Linked DNA regions of Homo sapiens. The protein of the gene in region 2 purifies or fractionates together with the protein of the main gene of each other region. This does not show direct contact. Each region holds a gene or a part of one and is shown on either strand. Other genes may lie near its edges. The genes, in order: APAF1, RPEL1 and DUSP29.

Evidence for each region.
Region 1: the proteins of RPEL1 (region 2) and APAF1 purify together in Homo sapiens (affinity purification with mass spectrometry; one large-scale study listed by BioGRID and IntAct). This does not show direct contact.
Region 3: the proteins of RPEL1 (region 2) and DUSP29 purify together in Homo sapiens (affinity purification with mass spectrometry; one large-scale study listed by BioGRID and IntAct). This does not show direct contact.

The regions. Positions count from the first base shown.
Region 1 is NC_000012.12:98,679,775-98,683,426, forward strand, and holds part of APAF1 (apoptotic protease-activating factor 1), read left to right. Parts: intron 1-502; coding exon 503-628; intron 629-3,368; coding exon 3,369-3,500; intron 3,501-3,652. UniProt on the Homo sapiens protein: Oligomeric Apaf-1 mediates the cytochrome c-dependent autocatalytic activation of pro-caspase-9 (Apaf-3), leading to the activation of caspase-3 and apoptosis. This activation requires ATP. Isoform 6 is less effective in inducing apoptosis.
Region 2 is NC_000010.11:103,244,354-103,248,535, reverse strand, and holds RPEL1 (ribulose-phosphate 3-epimerase-like protein 1), read right to left. Parts: upstream 2,650-4,182; 5' UTR 2,540-2,649; coding exon 1,853-2,539; 3' UTR 520-1,852; downstream 1-519. UniProt on the Homo sapiens protein: Catalyzes the reversible epimerization of D-ribulose 5-phosphate to D-xylulose 5-phosphate.
Region 3 is NC_000010.11:75,046,122-75,049,773, forward strand, and holds part of DUSP29 (dual specificity phosphatase 29), read right to left. Parts: intron 1-3,652. UniProt on the Homo sapiens protein: Dual specificity phosphatase able to dephosphorylate phosphotyrosine, phosphoserine and phosphothreonine residues within the same substrate, with a preference for phosphotyrosine as a substrate. Involved in the modulation of intracellular signaling cascades.

The DNA.
Region 1 (3,652 bases), on a different chromosome or scaffold from region 2:
GCCAGAGCCCATGCTGGCACCTGGAGCTGCCTGCCCCGCTGCAGCAGTCAGCACGTCTGTGCGCAGTGGCTGGACCCCACGCTCACTCACACACGCCTCGCTGTTCCACGCCTGACTCGCCCTTGGCAGGCTTGGGACCCAGGCTGGTAGTGTGAGCTGAATGCAGCCTGTCAGGCCAAGTGGGTGAAACAAGACCAGTGGGCCCAAGCAAAACTTGGGCAAAGGCGCCACCGGCCACAGAAGTTTCTGGCCAGAAAATCAACACCCCAAAGATCCTGTAACATTTTCATTGATATTTACAAACATGTAACAGTGAATAGTTCTCTAGTTATGTGAAGGCATACACATTCTGACAGAAATTCTGATTTTGGGAGTAGCTTTGCCAAGGTTCCTTTCTGTTTTGCAAAATGACAATGATTAAACTCACTTAAAGATTTTTATTGAATGATGACCAGTAGTTAAGCAGTTTATTATAAAAAATATTTTATTGTTACTTGTGCAGGTGTTCAAAGCTGAAACAGGAGAGAAACTTCTAGAAATCAAGGCTCATGAGGATGAAGTGCTTTGTTGTGCATTCTCTACAGATGACAGATTTATAGCAACCTGCTCAGTGGATAAAAAAGTGAAGGTAGGAAAATCTTTTCCTCTTGAGTTGTAATCACAACAGAATTCATTTTATTTTTCCATGATCATGAGACCAGAGTAAGTAGAGTTAAAGGACTCTCACCTGTTGATCTACTAACCTGATTCATTGTAAATTAACACTATCTGAAAATTCTTTACTTTTTTTTAAAGAGACAGGATTTTGCTCTGTGACCCAGGCTGGAGGGCAGTGGCATGATCATAGCTCACTGTAAACTCCAATTCCTGGGCTCAAGTGATCCTCCTGCCACAGCCTTCCAAAGTGTTAGGATTATAGGTATGAGCCACTGTGCGTGGCCTGAAAATTCTTTATTTTTAAACACCAGCAAAAATGCCTAGGTTGATCACCTCAGGATTAAACAAGCAGTGGGGAAAAGCAATGACAAATTAGTGAGTTTGTCTTCCATTAATAGACAAGTCCATGGGTTAAATATCAGTTGAAATCTTTGAGTGCATTGTGATTAGGAGTGTTGCTGCACAAACTTGGGGATTCCTGTTGTAAGATACAATTTTAAAATGCAACCCCAATTTTTTTAATTTGCTTATGAACTGGCTTATATATTCAGTGGAAAACCAGGTGGATGAACAAACTAATAATTACGTTACTGGTCTAAAAACATAAATAGAGAAAAGTAAACAGAGTAATTTTTACTTATTTATTTTGAGGCAGAGTCTTGCTCTGACACCCAGACTGGAGTGCAGTGGTACAATCTCGGCTCACTGCAATCTCTGCCTCCAGGATTCAATTGATTCTTATGCCTCAGCCTCTTGAGTAGCTGAGATCACAGGTGTGCACCACCATGCCCAGCTAATTTTTGTAGTTTTGGTAGAGACAGAGTTTTGCCATGTTGGTCAGGCTGGTATTGAACTTCTGGCCTCAAGTGATCCGCCTGCCTTTGACTCCCAAAGTGCTGAGATTATAGGCATGAGCCACTGTGCCCCGCCAGAGAGTAATTTTTATTTTTGTTAAGTATTCTCTTGTTCCTAAATTTGGCTTCTACCAGGAGCATTTATACTAATATAGAATTCAAGAGAAACTGAAGGCTTGTGGGGGTTATCACTGATATATGGAAGACAGACCTTACTTTAACCCTTTTTCAAAGGGGTTAAATCTGGAGTACTGGATGTAGCTAGGTGGAGTGGGCAAGAAATTTGCCTTGGGTGTTTTCCTGAAGTTTTCACCTACTGGAAGAGGGCTATGGAATGTCCAGACTAAATTTGAGACCTTGGAAAAATCTACCTCTTGATAGATTGGACTCGTGGCTTAACCAACAGTTAATTCACTCTGTAGTGTCTACTCTGACTCTGAGTCAGACTTGGAGGTGGCCACTGAGGGCAGTTCTAAAGTCAGAGCTACATGGAGTAAAAGGAAATAATAATGAGTTTCTGTTTTCTAAGCCAGAGGTAGAAATACCTATTAAAGAACTTTAAAATAAGATAAACTCTCTGGACCTCTGGGGATTCTAATCAGTGCTTTGATAACATACAAAGGAAATGCCAAAGGACATTAGTACCTCTAAAAAGTCAAAATCCCAGTGAAGGTTCATTAGGTAATTTATTTCTTTTGTTTGTTGTTATATGGCATAGACTGCTTAGTTGTCTTACATAGTAACTAGAATGATGATTAATTTTTTTGTTTTTTTTTTTTTTTTTTTGAGACGGAGTCTCGCTCTTTCGCCCAGGTTGAACTGCAGTGGCGCTATCTCGGCTCACTGCAAGCTCCGACTCCCGGGTTCATGCCATTCTCCTGCCTCAGCCTCCCGAGTAGCTGGGACTACAGGCGGCCGCCACCGCGCCTGGCTAATTTTTTGTATTTTTAGTAGAGACGGGGTTTCACCATGTTAGCCAGGATGGTGTTGATCTCCTGACCTCGTGATCTGCCCGCCTCGGCCTCCCAAAGTGCTGGGATTACAGGCGTGAGCCACCGCGCCCGGCCTGATGATTACTTTTTACTGAAAACTGAACACTATAAGAGGCTATAAATACTACACACTTTGTCATATTACATTATCAATTTCCTGCTACAGCTTGCAGGGTTAAGTGTCGATCCCGTTTACAGAAGAGGACGCAGATTCAGAGATGAAGTCTCTTGCTCAAGCTTACATTAAACTGGGAACAGTAATAGGGTTGAAAGCTGGGTTTCTCTCAGACTATAAAACCTTTATTTTTTTTAACTAAGCAATCTGCCTTTACTTATTTATATGGTACCTTGAAGTCCATAGAACACTTGTCATGTTCATTATCTCATTTGATATCTTAAATTGTGTGGGAGAGGTATAGATATCCCCATTTTACAGAAGAGGGAACTGAGATGCAGGTAAGTTAGGGATTTGTGACACACAAGTCATAAGTGGTAGAGCCAGCTCTTGGGCTCAACCCTTCTGACCAGAAATCTATTATGCTAACCTCTTTAAAGCACTTCTCTGCCTGCTTTCATTCATATAAACATGTGAAATCTTGCCCTTAAGAAATGTCATGTGTTCATGACACTCTAGTTATGCTATAGGTACATATATGTATATTTGCAAATAATTTTTTTTAAACATTAAGGCAAAATATTGCCATATTTTAGAAAGGGGAGAGGTTTCATTAGCATCTTGTCCAACTAGGAAAATCTGCTATGACAGGATAAGATAGCATTTGCAAAGCAATGGACATTGCTTTGCCCCTCTGTTCTCCCTTTGAAAATAATGGATATTTGTAAATTTTTTCTCTTTTCTCTTTAGATTTGGAATTCTATGACTGGGGAACTAGTACACACCTATGATGAGCACTCAGAGCAAGTCAATTGCTGCCATTTCACCAACAGTAGTCATCATCTTCTCTTAGCCACTGGGTCAAGTGACTGCTTCCTCAAAGTAAGTGTGGATATTGAGAATTAGGTAGATAAATTTGATTCGTACATCAGAGTATCTCCTTTGATTTTCTTATGTATACTACTATTAGGACTTTCTGGTCACAATGATAGAAACTACAATAATATATTAGCTGAAGCAAAAAAAAAATAGCT
Region 2 (4,182 bases):
TAACATTAGAGCTCATGCCTACTCAACATATCATTCCTTTTTTTGTTTGTTTTAGTTTATTTTTTGAGACAAAGTCTCACTCTGTCACCCAGGCTGGAGTGCAGTGGTGTGATCTCAGCTCACTGCAGCCTCGACCTCCCATACTCAAGTGGTCCTCCCACCTCAGCCTCCCGAGTGGCTGGGACCACAGGCACATGCTACCACATCTGGAGAATTTTTGTATTTTTTGTAGAGATGGGGTTTTACATTGTTGCCCAGGCTGGATCATTCTTTCTTAAAACCATGTTCAGAATCAAGTTGAGTAGCCTCCTGTAGAACTATCTGGCATGGGGTAATGGGAAAATGGCAAATACCAGGCTTGTACATCACCACTCACCATTCCTCACTCATGGCAGCCACAACTAATCAAACCTGGCACTTTACCCTCTTAATTCAATAATTAAGAATTCAAAACCTAGGAATTCTTTCTCAAGTCACTGTTTCAGGCAGGTGCTACCAATGGATAGGAGTTGGCATGGGAGACGTAATCAGGCAGGTGGGTTCGAACCTATACTGCACCCTTACTAGCTATATGACCTTGAGCAGGTCAGGCAACCTTCCTGAGACTCAGTTTTTGTCAACTGTAAATTAAGATAGTATCTCATTTGCAGTAGAATTGCCTTAGAATTATCCTGAGGATTTGTTGACAACATATATGTAAAAGTAGCCAGCACTGTACCTGGAAGAGACAAGGCCATGAAAAGTGTATAGCCTTTGAGGAGCCCGTCAATCCCTTCAGCTCGTGCTCTGGAAACTGTTAGGGAACACTTTTTTTTTTTTTTAAATGGGGACAAAAATATCTGCTTTATTATTACCACTTACTTATAGAGGTGATTTACAGATTTAATGAGAATATATCAAAGTACTTTATAACTCACAAAAATATAAACTTATATAATGCTATCTACTTTGTATTGAGCATATTCTAAATTCTGGGACTAGTACTAGAAACTTTACATATATAGTGTTACCTCTTAATTCTCAACACAACCCCACAGTTGTTATAATTACATTTAATGTATAAATGACTTCAGAGAAACACAAAAAAGACTGGGTGATTTGTTAAAGGTCCAGCTAGAAAAGGGCAGTCAGAATTCAACCCAATATTACTTCCATACAGAGGTTTTTACTTTTTCCTTTCTACTCAGAGCTAACACAACAGCATTATTTAACGTCCTTAAGAATGGTGGGGAGGAATCACTGAATAACCTGCTTTGACAAAAACACCCTGATAAAATCTATGCTTGTATTTTAGAACCCCTGGGTTTCACGCATTGTTTTTATAGTTTTTACACATTAAGTGTAAGGTGAAAAGTGATAGATTTTAAGAACCAAGAATATGGTATGCCATCCCACCCAAACTTATAAACAAATCACAAATAACATGAAATAGAAAAAAGCCATAAAGACTTCCTTTGCTTTTGGAAAACAGCTGAGAAACAACAAAATTCTTTTCAGAAGTACAGACAAAATTTGTTTTTGTAGTGTAGCTAATATGCCCTCCTTAGGCATTAAGACACTTTTCTGTTTGTAACCTTAATGCAGCCGTATTTTTACTCTTTATAAAAATCAAGTCTCTCAATAAAAACAGTATCTTACTCACTAATCATTAAATTGCATCACTAAAAATGTAGTTATACACACCAATTTCTGACCTCTTAGAATATTCTGCACAATCAGTTTTAATCACTGGAATGAATAACTGCTCAAAAAAGCAGTACAGCTTCAATTTCATGATGATTTGGTAGTCAATATTCCTGTTTTCCAGTAAAAGGGAGATTTCATGAACAGAAACATTGGGCTCCTTATGGTTTCATCGATCAAGAGAACGTTTCTGAGCAGCTTCTGAGCAAATATTTCTTAATAGGTTGATCACAGATCTGGGGTCTTCACTCCTCATAATAGCACTGCCAGATACAGTCATGTTAGCTCCTGCCTCTGCACACTTATGGACAGTGTCAGAACCTACTCCACCATCGCCCTCTATATCCAAAGATGGGAACTGGGTCCTCAACCAGTGAACCTTTGGCATCATATCTTCCATGAATTTCTGCTCTCCAAACCCCGGTTCCACTGTCATAACCAAGGCCATATCTATTTGATTAGCCCATGGTGCCAAATACTCAACTGAGGTTCCTGGTTTGATGGCAAGGCCAACCTTCATCCCATTCTCCCGAATGTCTTTAATCAAAGTCCCTGGGTTCTCAGTAGCCTCGAGATGAAAGGTGTACTGATTGGCTTCTGCTACAGCCATTGGCTTTACCCACTGTTCTGGCTTGGACACCATCATGTGCATGTCAAAGAAAGGGTCCTGGCCTAGCTGCTTTCGAAGGCTTTCTACCACAGGGTGACCAAAGGTGATGTTGGGAACAAAATGCCCATCCATTACATCCAGATGCAGATAATCGGCCCCAGAGTCTAGCATCTGGAGGCACTTGGCCCCTAAATTGGCCAGGTCGCTGTTGAGGATGGACGGGCCAATCTTGCAGCCCGACGCCATACCGCTGGCTCCCAAGAACAAGTTACCCCACGAGTCCCCGGCAAGACTAGAGCCCACTTTTTTTTTTTTTAAAACCAGGAAATTCTACCAAAGAACCACAGTTTGGCCAGGCACAGTGGCTCATGCCTGTAATCCCAGCACTTCAGGAAACCAATGCAGAAGGATCACTTGAGCCCAGGTGTTTGAGACCAGCCTAGGCAACATAATAGGAACCCGTTTTTACAAAGTAAAAAATTTGCCTGTGTGATGGCACATGCCTGTGGTCCCAGGTACTCGGGAGGCTGAGGCAGGAGAATTGCTTGAGCCGGGGAGGCTGAGACTTCAGTGAGCCATGATTGCGCCACTGCACTCCAGCCTGGGCGACAGAGTGAGGCCCTGTCTCAAACAAGAGACAGAAAACAAACAAAAAAGAAACCCCGAAACATAGTTTGGAGAGAACTATATAATAGCAGTCAAGTACAGGCTGTGAATTCTGTAGGTTTAAAAAAATGGTGAGGGATGGCCAGGTGTGGTGGCTCACGCCTGTAATCCCAGCACTTTGGGAGGCCAAGGCAGGTGGATCAGCTGAGGTCAGGAGTTCGAGATCAGCCTGGCCAACATGGTGAAACCCTGTCTCTACTAAGAATACAAAAATTAGCTGGGCGTGGTGGCACGTGCCTGTAACCTTTGCTACTCGGGAGGGTGAGACAAGAGAATCACTTGAAGCCGCGAGGTGGAGGCTGCAGTGAGCGGAGATAATGCCATTGCACTCAGCCTGGGTGACAGAGCAAGACTCCGTCTCAAACAAACAAACAAAAATGGTGCGGGATACCCTGGGAGGCATGGTTCAGGGATCCCTTCTGGAAGAGTTGGATATGAGAAGGTCTGAAGATTTAGGGTTTGGAAGAGGCACCAGTTGGAAGGTGGAACAGCATAAGCAAAAGCAGTAAGAGAAAGTTGAGAGCACAGAGAGGAGACTGACTCTTCCATCGTCAAGGGACTGGCCTGGGGAGTGTCTTCAGCGGGGAAGGAAAAATACCCTCCCTGGCCGGGTACTTTGGGTTTTCCTCACATTCTCGGCCAGCTCCTGATCTTACCCAACCAACCCCAGGAGCACCCCAAGCAGCAAAGACTCTGCACGTTTCATGACTACCACCAGGAGGCAGTATGGCCCAACAACTTGGAGCATCAGGGTTCATTCAGTTCCTAGTTTGTTCCAAGAGCTGATCTAGGAGCATGAAAGTGTCCACCAATCTAATATTTGTGGAGCACTTTGCATGGAGTTTTCAAAGTACTTTAACCCCGGTGATCTGATAGAATACTAACTACAACCCTGTGTGGTCTCTATGTGTTGGTATTATCTACCTAGAGGAACCGATGTTGAGGATTTAAGTGAATTATTCAAGTTCATTTAGACTGTGCGGGAATCTGAATTTGAACCAAGGGCCAAAATCTCTACCTCGTGCCCTCTACTACAACTTACTGCCTTTTGTTAAGGAGACAGGAGCATACAAATATTTAGCATAATAATAAAAGCTTATATTAATAACTATTAAGAACCAATGGCAGTTTCAGTTTGATAAGATGAAAAAATTCTGGAGATGGATGGTGGTGATGGTTGCACAACAATATGAATACATTTAATATCGCTGAACTGTATATTT
Region 3 (3,652 bases), about 28 Mb from region 2:
AGAAAAGAAAAAAGAAAGAAAGAAAAAGAAAAATCAATCTGGCTGATGTGTGGGGATCCTGGATGCTAGGATCTGTGTTTGGGAGTCAAAGAGAGCTCTAGAGAGTGTTTAAAGAGAAGTGATACAATCTGGGTTTAAGAAGACACTTCCCTCAATAGCATGAAGACCAGGACTTCAGCTCAGGGAAGATGTGACAAGGGTCTGGAGCCGTACCAGTAAGAGGGTAAAAGTGGCATTGCACTCCAGCTGAGGGCTCATCTCAAGGCCACTGGTAAAAGCATGTGGACAGAAGTGACCATGTTAGATGCTAGCAGGGACCAACACCCTGAGCCAGGAGGAAGCCTCACACCAGAAATATATGCCATGGCCCCTCGGCCAAGGGTGCGCTTGTCTTTCATTGGTTTCCTGGAGCTTTTTATTTGGCATGAGAACCATGATGGTGTCCAGTGTTTGGGAAGGGAATTGAGCATTTGGAAACATTTGCAGACAGCCCATCAGAACTGTGGCATGGGGAGGTGGGGAGTCCCACTGAGCCCCCCTCCACTTGGCTCTTAGTGTGGCCATTCTGACTGTGGGACACATTGTGCTTTCCATTTTTCCTTAGAAAGGTCTGCTTTTCATTTTTCGTCTTGCCCCAAAGTATGTGTACAACAAACATTATGCTTTGGGGACGTAGATCTGCGCCCAATTAAAGCCGCCGCTAATGCAGTCCATCTTGCTGAGTAGCAATCAACCTCACTTTGAGGTTGAGCTCAGTGGAAAAATTAAAATTAACTCTTCTTGACAGGAAGCTCCTACCCACCATGAAGACTGTTCTCTCTGGGTTCAGTAACTGGCTTTCAACATAATCAAGTGGCAGTTTGAATGAATAACAGTTTGCACTTTGCCACTTTTGGGGAGCGGGATAGATATGCAACAAGACTCATTGCCTGACACCTCCATATCCACCACACCAGGCTGACGTTGGTTGTGCCTGAGGCAGAGAAAGGGGCTCGTGAGGACCCTGAGACCCGGTGGGTATTTGAGGCCCACCACAAGTTTTCAGGGTCTTGGCTCCCTGGACGGGAAGGGGAGTTGGTATCCTCACACATCACTCTGGGGACTTCCCCCAGCTTCATTCACTCAGAGTTCAGTTGAGGGCTTGAAAGAGCATCCACAGCAGAATGGGAATCTGCAAATAAATGGAGTGCCTCTTACACAGATGTTGTGGGGGAGGCAGAGCCATCATCACAGACACCCATCGTCCAGTCCCCAGATGGGACAGATGCCCAGCTCAGCAATTATTGGGAGTGGGGCAGGCTCAGAGGGTGGTGTCTGACACTAGATTGCTTTGGTTTTGTTTTTAAATTTCAGGGCCACATACATTATCTGCTCACATATGTTAAAAAGAGACTAAGAAACACAGGGGCATTTTGAGGTGATGGGCATGGAGAAAAGGCCGTGTGCCCCACTCCTGGGTCCACATAAATGCCTCTGCTGAGGGAGAAAAGACTTCAGAAAGAAAAACAGATTTAAGAATGTACTTCCAGAATCTAGATGACACAGGAGCTTTAGTTTCTGGTTAGGCACAATCCTAGATGTGATCAGTCTGTTCAATTTTTAAATAATATGTCGTCTCATGACAAAAATAACACATGCTCAATGTAGAATGTAGAAAACATACTCCCCCCTCCAAAAAAATCACCTGTATTTCTACTCCCCTGGAGATAAAGGCTATTGTTAGCTTTTGATGTAAGAACCTCCCATTGTTTCTCTATGCATAGATTTGTATATTTTATAGAAAGGTTTTTTTTTGGTACAATACTATATATATAAAGTTTCAAAACCTTTGACGTGATATATTGTAAACATCTTCCTGTGGCAACATATAAGACTTCAATAACTGCATGCTATTTCATTATATAGGTATGTCCCAATTTTTTCTTACCAAACATTTTGATGTGTTTCTTTGGGCACTCCTCTGTTTATGTCCGTAGGAGACATTTTTAAAGGTGAAATTGCTGGGTCAACAGATATGGCCATTTTAAAATACATTTGATACTTGTTACTAAATTACCCTACAGAAAACTTGCTAAAATTGCTAAAAATTGCAGTCCGTATTCTTTGTCAATTTCATAGACAAAAAAAATTAATGGTGTCTTGTTTTCACTGATTCATTTTAGCAGTGATGGACATTGTTTACACATTTGTTGGACTCATGCAGTTTACTTTTTTTTTTTGTAACCTTTTTTTTACTCTTCCCAGTTCACTGGAATCATGTAGTTTACTTTTTTTTTCTTTTTTTTTTTTGAGACAGAGTCTCGCTCTGTCGCCCAGGCTGGAGTGCAGTGGCGCAATCTCGGCTCACTGCTCACTGCAACCTCCACCTCCCAGGTTCAAGCAATTCTCCTGCCTCAGCCTCCCGAGTAGCTGAGATTACACGTGTGTGCCACCATGCGTGGCTAATTTTTGTATTTTTAGTAGAGACAGGGTTTCACCATGTTGGCCAGGCTGGTCTCAAATTCCTGACTTCAGGTAATCCACCTGCCTCCACCTCCCAAACCCAGTGGAGTCTTAACCGTGCAGTCTTGAGTGTGCCCGTTCCTTGCAAGTGGACTTTAAAACAGTGGGCACATTTCTGGCATCTGATCTCGGTTAGTTCACCTGATGGGAAAGTGAAATGAACCGGCCTTCCGGTGTCTTGGGTGTTCTTGTTACTTGAGGGTGAAGCTCCTCCGTGTTGAGGCACCTGAGAAAACATAGGGCTGACAGCTGAAACTGACGCATGAACTGAGGTGGCAGAACTGCTGGGAGCCTCCGTTTTCTTTGTTTGCTAAATAGTACCGATTACACTGGCAGTACTTTCCTTGTGAGAGTCTTGTGAAGTTGAATGATGCAATACTGAAGCTTCTTTGAGAGGTTAAAAGATGACTCCAAGGGGAAAAGGCAGTGGAAAGATTTATGTCAGAATGTGCTTATCCCATGACAAAATGTGGTAATGGGATTATATGTAGTTTAAATTTTCTTGTTTTTGTCTTTCTACATTTTGTACATTTTCAGTAATGAACGAGTCATATATTCATTTACTATGTAAATATAGCATGATTTGTATTGTTATTTCCTTAGTTTTCAGGAGAGACCATTGTAAAGGCATAAGGTGGCCTCGGGGTTTTTAACTTCTACTGGAAATCTCCTGTCTGCCCCACTCTCCCAAACTCTATTCCTCCAAGGATGGAGGTGAAGAGAAGAGAGTACCCAGGAGGTCTGGTTTTGAGAAATGATGTCGTGTGAGTGATTGGACTCGGCATTTGCCTAACCATGCAAGGAGATGGTTTATGTTGCTTGAGGCCTTGACTGCTAAGCCGTGTTCTGGCAATGAGAAGGCCAGGCCAGGCCAGGGCCTCAGGCTTCTCTCCCCGACCGTCTTGCCTGTGACTGCTGCCCAGCTATGCCTCAGTTGCCTTCAGTAGTTGGAAGTCCTAGTTATTTCAGGTAACGCCCAGCATGTTAAATTCGCAACCTTGACTGTTTTTTGCTGCATCCTAAACTGGCCACACCACCCACACCTCGAAGAAGCAGGTTAATTTCATTCGTGCTCGGTGCCTTAAGGCGGAATTAGTTCCTCCTTTTCGGGGAGAAGGAGCTGTCTCAGCTGACTGACTTGCCTTCACTT